Homo sapiens: one gene and its partner. The protein of the gene in region 1 interacts with the protein of each later gene in a pairwise test. Each region holds a gene or a part of one and is shown in the gene's direction. Other genes may lie near its edges.

Evidence for each region. Proteins that work in one complex are often made in the same cells at the same time.
Region 2: the proteins of PGRMC2 (region 1) and BAG4 interact in binary tests that used the Homo sapiens proteins (3 or more experiments, as listed by UniProt).

What each region holds. Positions count from the first base shown.
Region 1 is NC_000004.12:128,277,152-128,285,024, reverse strand, and holds part of PGRMC2 (membrane-associated progesterone receptor component 2), read left to right. Parts: intron 1-7,873. UniProt on the Homo sapiens protein: Required for the maintenance of uterine histoarchitecture and normal female reproductive lifespan. May serve as a universal non-classical progesterone receptor in the uterus.
Region 2 is NC_000008.11:38,200,316-38,208,188, forward strand, and holds part of BAG4 (BAG family molecular chaperone regulator 4), read left to right. Parts: intron 1-7,196; coding exon 7,197-7,451; intron 7,452-7,873. UniProt on the Homo sapiens protein: Inhibits the chaperone activity of HSP70/HSC70 by promoting substrate release. Prevents constitutive TNFRSF1A signaling. Negative regulator of PRKN translocation to damaged mitochondria.

The sequences.
Region 1 (7,873 bases):
CTAGGTTCTGTTGAACAGCCTAAGAGTGATATACAGTTAGTATTCTACAGTTGATCAACAACATAACAGATATTTGAATATTTTATTATTGAAAGGAACCTTAAAGAAAGCCAGATCATTTTATGGGCTTAGAATATGTTGATATTGCATATTAATAGAAAATGTAATAAGTAGTACTTTTCAAAAAATCTTAAAGCCAAATTTCTGGCTATAAAACAGATACAAGTTCAGTTTTGCTTTTAATTTTTATTTTCATCCTCATAAATTAAGCAGTTTTGTAGCAGAATAATTCAGAAGCAGTAATTGTTAGTTTCTATGCCTAGCCAATATCTACCCTAATTTCACAATAATGGTTTTAGGATTAAATTTTGTGAGATTTTTCCATAATGCTAAACATGTGTTTATTTTTAGTCATACATTTTTAAAGTTCAGGCTCTTAATTAAATATTGACAGTGTAATTTGGTGGAGTATACACATTTTGGCAAACAGTTGGCATTAACTGTATTTGCCAATATTAAATTTAGTAACAGATCAGGCACTTGGCCAGCAGGTGAGGAAAGTTTGGTCATGTAAAAAACTGAATACAGGAGGAGAAAGAAAACCAGATTCGTTAAGCACCCACAATATCAGATCCATTAATTTTTTTATCTCCATAATTCCTCAGTGAAGTTGGTAAGTATTCCTGCTCTACAGGTGGGGAGTCTGAGGTCTAGGTATTTTAGGTAAATTGGCTTGGATTACATGTATGTCTAATAAATCCAGATGGATATTACCACACAGCTTATCTATACTATTTCTAGTAAACTGCATCCTGTGATAAACTTGTAGAGAATCTTACTGTTGTTTTTCTTTATACTCTTCCCTGGTTCCCATAAATCCAAGGATTTAAAGCCTCAAAAAAAACATGCCTTTCGGCCAGGCACGGTGGCTCACGCGTGTAATCCCAGCACTTTGGGAGGCTGAGGCAAGCGGATCACTTGAGGTCAGGAGTTTGAGACCAGACTGTCCAACATGGTGAAACCCCATCTCTACTAAAAAAAAAAAAATAAAAATAAAAAAATAAAGGCCAGGCACGGTGGCTCATGCCTTAATCCCAGCACTTTGAGAGACCAAGGCGGGCAGATCACCTGAGGTCAGGAGTTCGGGACCAGCCTGGCCAACATGGCCAAACCCTGTTTCTACAAAAATACAAAAAAAAATTAGCTGAGCTTGATGGTGGGTGCCTGTAATCCCAGCTACTGGGGAGGCTGAGGCAAGAGAATCACTTGAACCTAGGAGGTGGAGGTTGCAGTGAGCTGAGATCTCGCCATTGCACTCCAGCCTGGATGACAGAACGAGACTCTGTCTCAAAAAAAAAAAAAAAATGCTTTTATGGCTTTATGTTATACTGCCCAAAATGGTGGCCCCAGGTGGCTAATTAAAAGTAAATTAATTAAAATTAGATATAATTAAAAATTGAGTTCCTTAGTAACACTAGCCACATATAAAGTGCTGAGCCCACCATGGCTACCATTTTGGACAGTGCACTTTGTATATTTTCATATTGTGAGACTGGCGTGCCACCTACTGCACTAACAAGGCACCTCTTAGAGTATTTCTGTCTTCCCAGAGAGTTGTTGAAAACAACACTGATTCTAAAGGTCAGAGGAGGAGAAGGAGGAAACTCCATTTATTGAGCTTAGTATCGCTAATTTTCAAACAGCCCTATGAGATTGCCCAAAGCCACATATCTAGTAGGTGGCAACACTAAAAATTAAATCCAGATTTTCATAGCTTCAATCCTTCCCATTGTATTACAACATAGTCTATTCAGTTTCACATGTTTACAGAATCATAAGTTTTGAAGACTCAAACAGCTAGTATAATTTTTAACAATTTTATTTAATATTACTGCAATGGAACTTTACCAAAACAGTGCTTTTATTTTTTTGGAATGGCAAAAAATTATACACTTGACTTTTTGATAGTTTATTTTGCGTTGTTGAACCTTGCAATACTGCTGCTCCCTTATTCCAGGTGGAGTATTCTTTGACATATACCAAAGCTATATTTTTTCCAACTTACCTTTTAAATTCCACTGAAAGAAAAAAGTCACGTAAGAAGAACCCCATGAGATGCCTAATATTTAGGAGGTTGGGGAAAAGAACACATGTACCTTGAAGTGTTTTTCCTCCATTTTAAACTTTATCTTCAATTTGTTCACTTTTATTTAACACTTTAGTTTGCAGAATTGGAAACTCTGTGTTTGCAGAGTTGCATCATAAAAACTGGACCCAATCTTACCTATTTCTTCATGGATGTCCTAAAGTTGCCACTGCCCACCTCTCATCCCAGCTTCTTGCTTTGAAGCCAACTGGCTTTGTTGTTTGGGCTAATGCCCATATGCATCTATTACCTACCAGTAAGATAAAAGGATTAGCTAGGTTTTCTGATGATTTTTTATATTCTGCTCAAATTTCTACTAGTTATTTCTATTATAACTACTTAGTTGGCTCTGAATTCAACATCATCCCGTTGTTTTTAATCTTTGAGGGAATCGTATTTGTGTTAAATCCTAAAGCATATTATAAAAGGATAGCTTGAAACCAGAAGCTGTTATTCAGGGTGGAAGAAAGGAGTAGATTTAATAACATCTGGAATTAGCCATTCAAGTTCTTTTAATTGTTTTTTCAACACTCTGACATAGACCACTCCTTTCCCTGTGCACCCAAGACAGACATGACTGTATAACTCCTGTATTCTTTTGGAGCCTATATCCAGTCTCAGGATCTTTAATAATAGGATTTCAGCTCCATTTTTAAATACTGAGGAAGACTTCCCTGGATTTCATTACAGTAAAAGCTTAAGAGATGAGAAATGGAGTTAACTGAGTCTTCAAAACAGATGTGTTCCTATCCTCATGGAGTTAATAGTCTATTAAGGAAGAGAGGCAGTAAACAAGGATTTCAGTATGTAATTATAATCTGTAATATGCTATAAAAGAAATTAATAGAATGGGAATAGAGGGTAACAAAGGACTTTATTTAGATTAAGTGGCTAAGCAAGGTTACCTTTTTTATGTTAGATTCTCGAGAAAAAGGGCTCGACATTTAAGCAAAAACCTAACAGAGCCAGCCATACAAAGATTGGGTATGAGAATGTTCTGAAGTGAGATTGTTACTATGCTTTCTATACCGAGCAAAGCCATCTAGCAGTAGATCTAGAACTGATCATACTAGAAACCTCTTTAACACTGTTGATTTTCAGATTTTACTTCAGCCTTTATCTGATTAGTATTAACACAATATTTCATTTTCCATCCCTTTTAGTCAATCTGTGTTGTTTTATTTTTCTCACATTAATGACATATAGCTGGATTTTTTCATTTAATATTAGCACTATGTCCTTTAATAGCTTAATTAGTGTATATGTTTTGTGATTACGGGTATATTTAGGTTTATTTCTATCATCTTATTTTGTGATTTCTCTTCACCTTACTTTTCTTTGCCTCTTTTCCCACTATTTTTCCTTCTCTGATTGATTTTTTTATTTCTTCCATTTTCTCTCCTCTACTGATTTGGATGTATTCTATTTCTATCCTTTTAGTGATTTCCTTAAGTTTTTGCTATAGATGACTATCCTATGCTTCTGAACAATATAAGAATTTTAGCCAAACATCATTTTAGTGTCAATTTGAAAAAGCTGCCTCTTTAAGATACTTTACTGACATTTGACAGATTATTTCTTAATAAATAAGCAAAACTGCCATGACTACAAATATGGATAGTATCCCCTGCGTTGTACATAGTCATATGTTGAGGCCCTGGTTAGAAAGCTTTAACTCTGATTCCTCCCCCATCCTGTTTTCCACAGTATCACTATTAGACTTTAGCTTCACTTTGTTTTTTCAAACTCCACCCCAAAATTGATGAAATTATTATCTTTTTAATATAGTCCTTGTTTAAATTTACTAACATGGTTATCATTTTTTTAATTCACTGTTGTTTCTTGCATCTCATTTCTTTGGGGTTCACTTTTTATTTTAGTGAGGTGTGTCCTATAGTTTTTCACTGGCAGGAAAAAATTTTTTATTTTTCCTCACTCAGGAATAATAGTTTGGGTTTAGAATATAAAATTGTAGATTGGGCCAGGCGCAGTGGCTCATGCCTATAATCCTACCATTTTTGGGAGACCAAGGTGGGAGGACTGCTTGAGCCCAGCAGTTCAAGACTAGCCTGGGCAATATGGCGAGACTCTGTCTCTTACAAAAATATAAAAAATTAGCTAGGCATAGTGACATGCACCTGTGGCCCCAGCTACTCAAGAGTCTGAGGTATTAAGATCGCTTGAGCCCAGAAGATCAATGAGCCTTGATAACACCACTGCACTCAACCTGGGTGACAGAGCAAGACCCTGTCTCAAAAAAAAATGTAAATTGACCTTATTATACCTCAACTCTTGAGTAGCGTTATGCCACTGTCTTCCACTTGTTGGTGAGGAGTCGGCTTGTAGTTTCTCTTTACTTTTATTAATCTTTTTCTTCCTTTTGGTTGTAGTTGAGATCTTTTTGTCTTTGGGGTTTTGCTATTTTACTAGGATTTGTCCAGGTATGGATTTGATTTTATTTACCATGTACCAAACTCTACTCAAGTCTGTGGATATATTGTCCTTTTTTTTTTTTTTTTTTTTTTCCCAGAAAATTTGCTGTTACTTATTGCCTCTTCCATTATCTCTGTTCCTTCCTCTGGAACTGTTAATAGATATACATTAGGTTTTCATTCTATTCTTAATGTCTCTTAATCTTTCCTTTTGTACCATTTCTTAATAATTTTAAGCAAATTTACTTTAGTTCTTTAATCTGCTTCTGTATCTGTTATATGTGCCCACTCCTCCATGATGGTTTGTTTCTTCATGTAGTTTATATTTTTTATTGTGAACTTATTATCTTCAGTAGTTACTTTTTTTAATTTTGGAGTATTTCCTGTAAAATTCCATGAGCCCTAAGTTGTGAAAGAGGTAAAGTGCTTTGGGTATGTTGCAAAATAGGGCCTCACGTAAGTTAAAACAATGATTTTTTAAATTAAGTAATACATGCTCAAAATAGAAAATTCAAAAGGATATACAGTGAAAAATAAGTCTACTTCCCACAACTAGTCCCAGCCACCATGTTCCCTTCCATAGCAGCAAAGCACCAGTCTACGTATTGTTCTAGAGCTATTTTGGGTGCAAGTACAAGCATGTGGATATCTTCCTTTCCCCCCACACTAATTATAGTATACTATGCATACCCTTCACAATATTTTAATATCACAAGAGCCTTTGACATCAGTATAGAGAGCCATCTTATTCTTTTGAATACATGCATAATATTCTATTTTATGAATAAGTCATAATTTAACAGTCCACTGTTAACATTTGTTTTCAGTCTCCTGTTATTGCATGATGCTGCAATAAATATGTACATGTCATTTTACACATGTGTGTAAAATTATGATTATAAAGTAAATTCCTGGAAATAAAATTACCGAGGCTTGGGGTATGGATATTTTTAATTTGGATTCTTGTTTCTAAACTGCCCTTCAGAGAGGTTGGACCAATTTACACTTGATGAAAATGCCTGTTTCTCACTTCTTGCCAAAAACGTGGTATTAAGCTTCTTGGTCTTTGTCACTCTTGAGAGGTTAAAATGGTATCTCAATATTTGTTTAAATTTACATTTCTCATTTACTTAATGAGGTTGGACTTCTTTTTAAAAAGTTGAGTCATTTATGATGCCTTTTCTACAAATTGTTTATTCATATATCCTTTGCCACAGTTTTTCTCTTTTTTTTTTTTTGAGACAGAGTTTCACTCTTGTTGCCCAGGCTGGAGTGCAATGATGCAATCTCGGCTCACTGCAACCTCTGCCTGCTGGGTTCAAGCGATTCTCCTGCCTCAGCCTCCCGAGTAGCTGGGATTGCAGGCATGCGCCACGACACCCAGCTAATTTTGTATTTTTAGTAGAGACGGGGTTTCTCCATGTTGGTCAGTCTGGTCTCGAACTCCTGACCTCGGGCAATCCGCCCACCTCAGCCTCCCAAAGTGCTGAGATTACAGGCATGAGCCACTGCGCCCAGCCCTGCTGCAGTTTTTCAATCATCATATTGATCGTACAGATTTTAGGTGTTCTTTATAAAGTAAATCAGCCTTTGCCGCAAATATTTTTTCTAGTTTGTCCTTTTACTTATTTATGGTGTTTTTTTGAACCACACAAAGTTTTGGTTTTATGTATTCAAATTTATCTTTTCTTTTATAGCTGCTAAGTTATGTATTATATTTAAAGACTTTATGCACTTAAAATTGTTTTTAAAAATCTGTAGTTTTTTTAGTACTTCTGTGGTCTCAGTTTTTTAGTTCCATTTGAAATTGATTTTGCTTTAAGATGTGAAATTAGAGTCCAAATTTGGTGGGGTGGTGGGTGTTTGTTTGTTTTTGAGAAGGAATCTTGCTCTGTCACCCAGGCTAGAGTGCAGTGGCGCCATCTCGGCTCACTGCAACCTGCGTATCCCGGGTTCAAGCGATTCTCCTGCCTCAGCCTCTTGAGTAACCGGGATTACAGGCGCCCACCACCGTGCCCGGCTAATTTTTATATTTTTAGTATAAGAGACAGGGTTTCACCATCTTGGCCAGGTTGGTCTCAAACTCCTGACCTCGTGATCTACCCGCCTTGGCCTCCCAAGGGGTTGTGTTTTTTAACAGAAGGTTATCTAGTTGTCCCAACATGTTTCCCCAACAGGGGAATAATCCCTTTTTCCTAATACTTGAAGTATTATCTTTAGTGTTCATTAATTCTTATAGATATTTGAGTTCATACTATTTTTTCACCTTGGAATTTTCATTCTGCATGGGTTGCATAAACTCAGGCCCCACTCCCATAAGTGGCACGGGCCTGGGCTTTTAATTTTTCTGTCTTTTCTTTACCCCAGCCTACCCATGCACCCTGGAGTTAAGGCCATATGCTCAGTTCACAATGTTGCTGAGCGCTTTTGACAGTAGCTCAAATTTCAGAAGCAAGATTGCACTTTCAGTCACTTATAGAATCATACTATTCAAGAGATTATTTAGTTTGGTCTCAACTTCAGGCAGGTAAAATAATTTTCCTAATTTATATTTGAGGGATCTAAGGACTATGGAAATCGAGACTTGTTGATTGTGAGTGGATCCTCTAGAACCCAAGTATCTGTCTTCTTGAGAGGTATTATTTCAGTTTTACCATACTGCATTCTCTCTAAAAGTCTTGGGACTTACTGGACCTAAGCATAAAAAAATTTATTAGTTCAGTTAATCACTTTTACATATTGCCTCATTTGTTGATAGGCTGATTATAATCTTATTTGAAATAAATTACCCAATACTAAGTGTTATTAGTTACTCAATTTATAATCACAAAAGATTATTGTCAAAACAGGCCTGAAAACTGCACTGTTGATAAACTTTAATTAATTAAAGTTCATCTCTGAGAGATATGGTTTTTAAACTGTGAGAATAATTAAAATATCCCTTTAGAAACACTAAGGTAGCTATATAATCATCCTAATAATCACAAAATTATCTGTTACTACATATTTACTTCCTCCTGGAATTTTCTGTTTATTAAATTAATATTTAAAACATTTTACAATGAGCATATGTTGTTGCTGTTTCAAGAATATGTCACCTCATTCTAACTGATTGTATTAAAGTAAGCAGTTTTAGGATACGGTAACAAATAGGTTTATTGAACTTTAAAATATCTTGACCACAAGTTGGATTGACACTGAAAACTAAATGAAATCTGAATTCTGACTAGTATAGTACTTCATGTTGGGTTTGTTTTGTTTGTTTGTTTGTTTGTTTGTTTGTTTGTTTTGAGAT
Region 2 (7,873 bases), on another chromosome or scaffold:
TTCCTAAAAATCATAAATGTAAGGGTTTATTTCCAGACTCTCAATTCTGTCCCATTAATCTATATGTCTTCCTTAAGCCAATACCAAACTGTTTTGATTACTGTGGCTCTGAAGTAAAATTTGAAATCAGGAAGTATGAGTCTCTCCAAAGAGATGGACTCTCTCTCTCTTTTTTCTTTTTCTTCTTCCATATGGTTTCGGCTATTCTGGGTTGCTTACATTTTCATATGAATTTTAGGATCAGCTTTTCAACTTATGTAAAAAAGGCAGCTGAGATTTTCTTTTTTTCTTTTTTTTTTTGAGCTGGAGTTTTGCTCTTGTTGCCTAGGCTGGAGTGCAATGGCACGATCTTGGCTCACAGCAACCTCCACCTCCCGAGTTCAAGCCATTCTCCTGTCTCAGCCTCTGGAGTAGCTGGGATTACAGGCATGCGCCACCACGCCCGGCTAATTTTGTATTTTTAGTACAGATGGGGTTTCTCCATGTTGGTCAGGCTGGTCTCGAACTCCGGACCTCAGGTGATCCGCTTGCCTTGGCCTCCCAAAGTGCTGGGATTACAGGCATGAGCCACCATGCCTGGCCAGGCAGCTGAGATTTTTATTGAGATTGCATCATAGATCAGTTTGGAGAGTAGCATGTGTACTTTTATAGTTAATGTAAGAGGGAGACAAAACTCATAGTCATGAATTATAAGTTAATGTTAATTTTTCTGATTTCACTGATCTTACTGATAAAGATTGCTTTTTCTCATAACATTTTCCCCCTTAGGTAAAAGTATTTATTACATTCATATGTAGGTTCAAAAAAGATTAACTTATAATTTAGTAGTAACTTTTTAAAAGCAACAGTAATAATGTGCAAATGTTTTTAGATACAACATACAAGTTGTTGGATTTAAAATAACCCAAAGGTGTCTAGACATACACCTTTTTGAGGTGAGCACATGTGTATTTTCTGGCGAAACATCACATGGGGATTATACATTTATCATCATCTTTTTTTTGTTTGTTTCTTGAGATAGATAGTCTTGCTCTACCACCCAGTTCATTGTAGTGGCATAATCATAGATCACTGTAACCTTGAACTCCTGGACTTAAGTGATCCTCCTGTCTCAGTGTCCTAGGTACAGGTGCGTGCAACCACACCTGGTTTAATTTTTAAATATTTTGCAGAGATGGGGTCTCATTATGTTGCCTAGGCTGGTCTTGAACTCCTGGGCTCAGGTGATCCTTCTACCTCAGCATCCCAAAGTGTTGGGATTACAGGCGTGAGCCATTGCACTTGGTCTAGCTTCTATCCAAGATAGACTCCTATAGTGGTATATAGATATGACTGGTTTCCTTTTTAAAAAATTAAGCAGTATCATGTCTTTACCTTCCGGCTACCTCCTTGGGTTAGCCTTGCCACATGGTCATTCTTCTGTTTGGTTGGTTTTATAAATCTTAAAAATTCTCATTCAAAAGTAGCTATAATAAGCCAAGAATATGTAATTTCATGCATTTATTCTGAGTGTGGAATTTATATATATATATATATATATATATATATATATATATATATATATATTTTTTTTTTTTTTTTTTTTTTTTTTTTTAAGAAGCTGTTAATGTTGCTAAGGTGTCTGACCAATCTTCCAAGTTGATTAGCCTGCCATGTGCCAGGTGCAGTTTATGTGCTATGCAAGTATTAGGGCAGCATTTGAACTAAAGCCTTCCTCATTTTTCAGAACTTCATTCTTTAACTAATAGTGTGGACTCTTGAGAGGAGCATGGAGGGCGATTCATGGAGTAGGGTGTGAACAGCACGGAAGTTCACAATCTCAGGCTGTATCTCTGGAAGCAGAAGATATTGTCTCACCCAACTGTTAATAAAGTTCGTGAGGTTTTCTCAGTATTATTCAAACTCGGTTGAGTTGCTTCTGCTTTGTTCTTAAGTCCTTCTTTTTCCTTTTCTTTTCTTTCTTTTTTTGAGACCAGGTCTCCCTCTGTCACCCAGGCTGGAGTACAGTGGTATGATATTGGCTTACTGCAACCTCCACCTCCTGGGCTCAAGCGATCCTCCCACTGCAGCCTCCTGAGTAGCTGGGACTACAGGCACATGCCACCATTCCCAGCTAATTTTTGTATTTTTTGTAGAGAGGGGGTTGCCCCCGCTTATCTTAAACTCTTTGAGTTTAAGCAGTCCACCTGCCTTGGCCTTCCAAAGTGCTAGGATTACAGGCATGAGCCACTGTGCTCGGCCCCCTTTTTTTTTTTTTTTCTGTTTCTCAGGCTGGAGTGCAATGGCATGATCACAGCTCACTGCAGCCTCAATCTCCTCTGGCTCAGGTGATCCTCCCACCTTAACTGCTTGAGTGGCTGGGACCTTAGGCATACGCCACTACACCTGGCTAATTTTTGTATTTTTTGTAGAGATGGGGTCTCACTTTGTTGCCCAGGCTGGTCTGGAACTCCTGACCTCAAGCGATCCACCTGCCTTGGTCTCCCAAAGTGCTAGAATTACAAGAATGAGCTACCACGCCTGGCCAAGTCCTTCATTTTTATGACATACTTTAATATGTAACAGAAATCTGTTCTGAAGTCCTAGAAGCATTTTCTTCCTTTTTGGATTCCGTCTTATGACTCTAAATGGTGCAAGGAACTCCTGTATTTTCTTTGCTGTGCTCCAAGTGTCAACCTAAAATAACAACAGAGAGAAGGACTCTTCAAAGAAATGAATCTGTTTGGAAATAAACAGAGAATTACAATTTCAGATGCGCATACCATAGATAATCATCCCCTACATATCTGGAGAAGTTGTAGTAAGGGGAAACTTTTAAAGGGAAAGAGGAGAAGTCCATATAAGCTGTTTTGAGACAAACATCATTGGTCACAGGGGCCTGTTGTAGGAGCTGATGTTACTGGAAACTCATTGCTAAGCGAGTGTTCTTATGAAGATGGCTTATGTGAAACTGCAGTCTTGAGGAATTTTTTTTTTTTCTTTTTTTGGACAGAGTTTCACTCTGTCGCCCAGGCTGGAGTGCCATGGCACGATCTTGGCTCACTGCAAGCTCCGCCTCCCGAGTTCACGCCATTCTCCTGCCTCAGCCTCCTGAGTAGCTGGGACTACAGTCGCCTGCCACCACGCCCAGCTAATTTTTTTGTATTTTTAGTAGAGACAGGGTTTCACCGTGTTAGCCAGGATGGTCTCGATCTCCTGACCTCGTGATCCGCCCACCTTGGCCTCCCAAAGTGCTCAGATTACAGGTGTGAGCCACCGTGCCTGGTTGAGGAATTTTTTGTGATAAGTCCTGTTACAGACATATGTAGGACAAGCAAGATGAGTAGGGCCTACAGGGATTTTTTGTGAGTTTTTAGAAAGCCCTGTGATATAGGCTGGGTGCAGTGGCTCATACCTGTAGTCCAAGCTACTTGGGAGGCTGAGGCAGGAGGATAACTTGAGCCTGGGAGATCTAGGCTGCAGTGAGCTATGATGGTGCCACTGTACTCTAGCCTGGGTGACAGAGTGAGACCCTGTCTCAAAAAAAAAAAAAAAAAAAGTCCTTGTGATAATACTTATCGCAGACATGTGTGCATGAGATCCCCTCCTTCGTGACCTCCCCCTCCATTTTGGGTCTGATGTAAGTGACTCCATCTTGGCATTGGCAACTTTCACACAAGCTGCTTTTCAGACAAAGACTTAAAAACTTTGCCACGTTTCTGAAATAGGATCTTTAGCTCATCCTTAACAAACATCTTTAGCAACTGCAAGGCTGTTATATAATCTGATTCTGTGTTCTTTTGTAAACATGCATGTGACAGCTTTGTGATCTGTCAGGACAGTGGTTATTTGGGAAAAGAAGCAATGAACTCATGAAGGCATCTCAAAACCAGGAAGTAATTCCAGGAATCAAGGAAATTTTCAAGCATCAAAAGTAATGGCTGGCCAGATGTGGTGGCTCACACCTGTAATCCCAGCACTTTGGGAAGCTGAGGCGAGTGGATTGCTTGAGCCCAGGAGTTCGAGATCAGCCTGGGCAACATGGCCAAACCCTGTCTCTACAAAAAATACAAAAATTAGCCAGGCATGGTGGTGCATGCCTGTGGTCCCAGTTACTTAGGATGCTAAGGTGGGAGGATTGCTTGAGCCCGGAGTTTGAGGCTGCAGTGAGCCGTGATTGTGCCACTGCATTCTACCCTGGGTGTCTTGGGGAGAAAAAAAGTAATGGCCAGGCATGGTATAATCCCAGCACTTTGGGAGGCTGAGGTGCCAGGATCACTTCAGCCTAAAAGTTTGAGACTAGCCTGGCAACATAGCGTGACCTCATTTCTATTTAAAGAAAAACAACAACAACGAAAAAAAAAACAAAAACAACGCCTGTGAGAAGGGAAAAAGAAAAAAAATAAACAACAAAAGCCACATAAAAGCAATGAGAATCACACACTAAAGTAACATGAACCCATCTATTGGTTTCAATGGGTTATCAGTACATGGCCGTCGTGTATTTATTCTTGGAGTATTTCCTTGGAGTATTTTGAAGCAATTTCAGATATCATTTTATCACTTATAAATACCTAAGTATGTTTCTTTAAAATATAAGGAAGTTTTAAAAACATAACCACAATGTTTTTAAACATTTTTAATTAAAAATTAAAACTTAAAAGGAAAAAAACAACCTTAAAAATAATTATTTCATATCATTAAATATCTGGTCAGTTCTAACAGTAAAATATTTATTTAGTTAGTTAGCTAGTTGAAGACAGGGTCTTACTGTCACCCAGGCTAGAGAACAGTGGCTTGATTATAGCTCACTGTAACATTGAACTCCTAGGCTCAAACGATCCTCCTGCCTCAGCCTCCTGTGTAGCTAAGGACTATAGCTGTGCCATACCACGCCCAGCTAATTAATTTTTTTTTTTTTTTTTTTTTTTTTTTTTGTAGAGATGAGGTCTTGCTGTTTGCACAGGCTGTTCTCAGACTCCTGGGCTCAAGCAATCCTCCCACCTTGGCTTCCCAAAACGCTGGGATTTTTACAGGCATGAGTCTGTGCGCCTAGCCATAACAATAAAATTTGAAGACTGAATACAATTTTTTCAATGAATAGTCTTTAATCTACTTAAAGATTCCATTGTTATAGGACATTTAGGTAGTTTACAATTTTGTGTGATTGTAAATAATGCTGCGATGAAGAACTTCATGTCTATAACTTTTTCTCTAGTTGAATCATTTCCTTAGGATTTCTAGAAGTTGAATAACAGTACAAAAAGTCACATAATGTTTTATTAAGTCTCCAATTGTGTGTGTGATGTATTACGGAGTTCTTTGTTTATGCCCGAAGACCTTAACAGCCTCTTAGTAGTTTTAACATAGTGGTGGTTCATGGTCTTCTGCTCAGGGAATGCATTGCTGACTGTTTATTATACCTCATCCTGCATGGAATTCTTTGGTCATGGGTATCCTCATACCTAAAGTGGGAAAGATTATATAGTCTTCGAGATAGAGATGAGTATAGGAAAACTGGATTCTGTGTTTTCACTGTTTTTAAAGGGTAAAGTAGAAATTAATAGAACACGTTGAGGTGATCATTTAAATTTAGCATTAAGCTTGAATCTTTTTTTAAAAATTACTTTTTTTTTTTTTTTTAAATAGATGGGGTTTGACTATATTCCTGAGGCTGGTCTGTAACTCCTGAGCTCAAGTGATCCTCCCTCCTAGGCTGGATGCAGTAGCTCATGCCTGTAATCCCAGCACTTTGGGAGGCTGAGGCGGGTGGATATGAGGTCAGGAGTTCGAGACCAGCCTGGCCAAGATGGTGAAATCCCATCTCTACTAAAAGTACAAAAATTATAGCATGCCTGTAATCCCAGCTACTTGGGAGGCTGAGGCAGGAGAATCGCTTGAATCTGGGGGGTGGAGGTTGCAGTGAGCCAAGATCTTGCTACTGCACTCCAGCCTGGGTGACAGAGCAAGACTCCATCTTAAAAAAAAAAAAAAAAGTGATCCTCCCTTCTCAGCCTCCCAAAGTGCTGGGATTACAGGCATGAGCCTGTGCGCCTGCCTAGCTTGAATCTTGTTTGGATTATTAAACTGAGGATTCTGGGTGTGGATAAGAGTCTGAATAGGTTATTTAAAACTACAGTGAGCAATATATGAGGAGTTTGTTGTTGGTATCATTTGGGATGCAGAGTGATGGTGTAATACAAAGAACTGGACTTCAGAGTCAGATCTGGGTTCATGTCATGACCCAGCCATGATAATACTAACAACAGTCATAATACAAATAATTACCATTTATTGAGCATACTATATGCCAGACACTATGCTAAACCTTTTATATATGTCATCTTATTTAATTTTGACAGTAATCCTCAAAGATACGTTTATGATCTTCATTTTCCTGATGGAGAAACTGAAGTTAGGGAAGGTTAAATACAAAGCCTATGGCAGAGCTAGGTCTGTCTCTATAGTCTTTTTAAATAATTTTTTTGTTTTCTTATACTTTCTGAGACAGAGTCTCACTCTGTTGCCCAGGCTGGAGTGCAGTGGTACAACCATGACTCACTGCAGCCTTGACCTCCTGGGCTCAAGCAATCCTCTCACCTCAGCCTCCTGAGTAGCTTGGACTACAGATGTGTGCCATGAGGCCTAGATAATTTTTTTTTTTTTTTTTTTTTTGAGATGAAGTCTTACTCTTGTCCCCCAGGCTGGAGTGCGATGGCACGATCTTGGCTCACTGCAACCTCCGCCTCCTGGGTTCAAGCGATTCTCCTGCGTCAGCCCCCCGAGTAGCTGGGATTACAGGCGCCTGCCACCATGCCCGGTTAATTTTTGTATTTTTAGTAGAGATGGGGTTTCACCATTTTGGCCAGGCTGGTCTAGAACTCCTGACCTCAGGTGACCCACCCGCCTCGGCCTCCCAAAGTGCTAGGATTACAGGCTTGAGCCACTGTGCCTGGCAATGCCTGGCTAATTATTTTATTTTATTTTTGTAGAAACAGGGTCTCACTATGTTGTCCAGGCTGGTCTCAAACTCCTGACCTCAAATGATTCTCCCACCTTGGGCTCCCAAAGTGCTGGGATTACAGGCATGAGCCACTGTGCCTGGCCTGCATTAGTGATTAACATCTTCTCAAAGTTTTCAAGTTTAGGCATTAAGTCAGGGCATTTCAGCTCTTCTACTAATTCATCTTTTTTTCACTCAACTTGGTTTTTTTCAGAGTTTGAATTCTTATACAAATGGAGCGTATGGTCCAACATACCCCCCAGGCCCTGGGGCAAATACTGCCTCATACTCAGGGGCTTATTATGCACCTGGTTATACTCAGACCAGTTACTCCACAGAAGTTCCAAGTACTTACCGTTCATCTGGCAACAGCCCAACTCCAGTCTCTCGTTGGATCTATCCCCAGCAGGACTGTCAGACTGAAGCACCCCCTCTTAGGGGGCAGGTTCCAGGATATCCGCCTTCACAGGTGAGTTGTTTTCTATTGGGAAAAAAATGAATTCAAAGTCTCTGCCTCTTGTAAACAGTGGAAGAGCATCTGTTCATACTAGTGCTGATTTAATAAGACACTTCTAGATTGGGAAGGCTTTTATATTGATGCCTTTCTTATTTGTGGCAGCTATTGCAGTAAATGGACTTTGGCTGAAGGTCATAATCATAAATTTTTATACTGAAAGTAATCTTTAGAGAGTTGCTGCTTGAAAGTTTCCCTATCTTAGCCTTTTTTTTTTTTTTGTGGCGTGATCTTGGCTCACTGCAACCTCTACCTCCTGGGTTCAAGCAATTCTTCTGCCTCAGCCTCCCAAGTAGCTGGGATTACAAGCACGCGCCATCACGCCCAGCTCATTTTTGTATTTTTAGTAGAGATGGGGTTTCACCATGTTGGCCAGG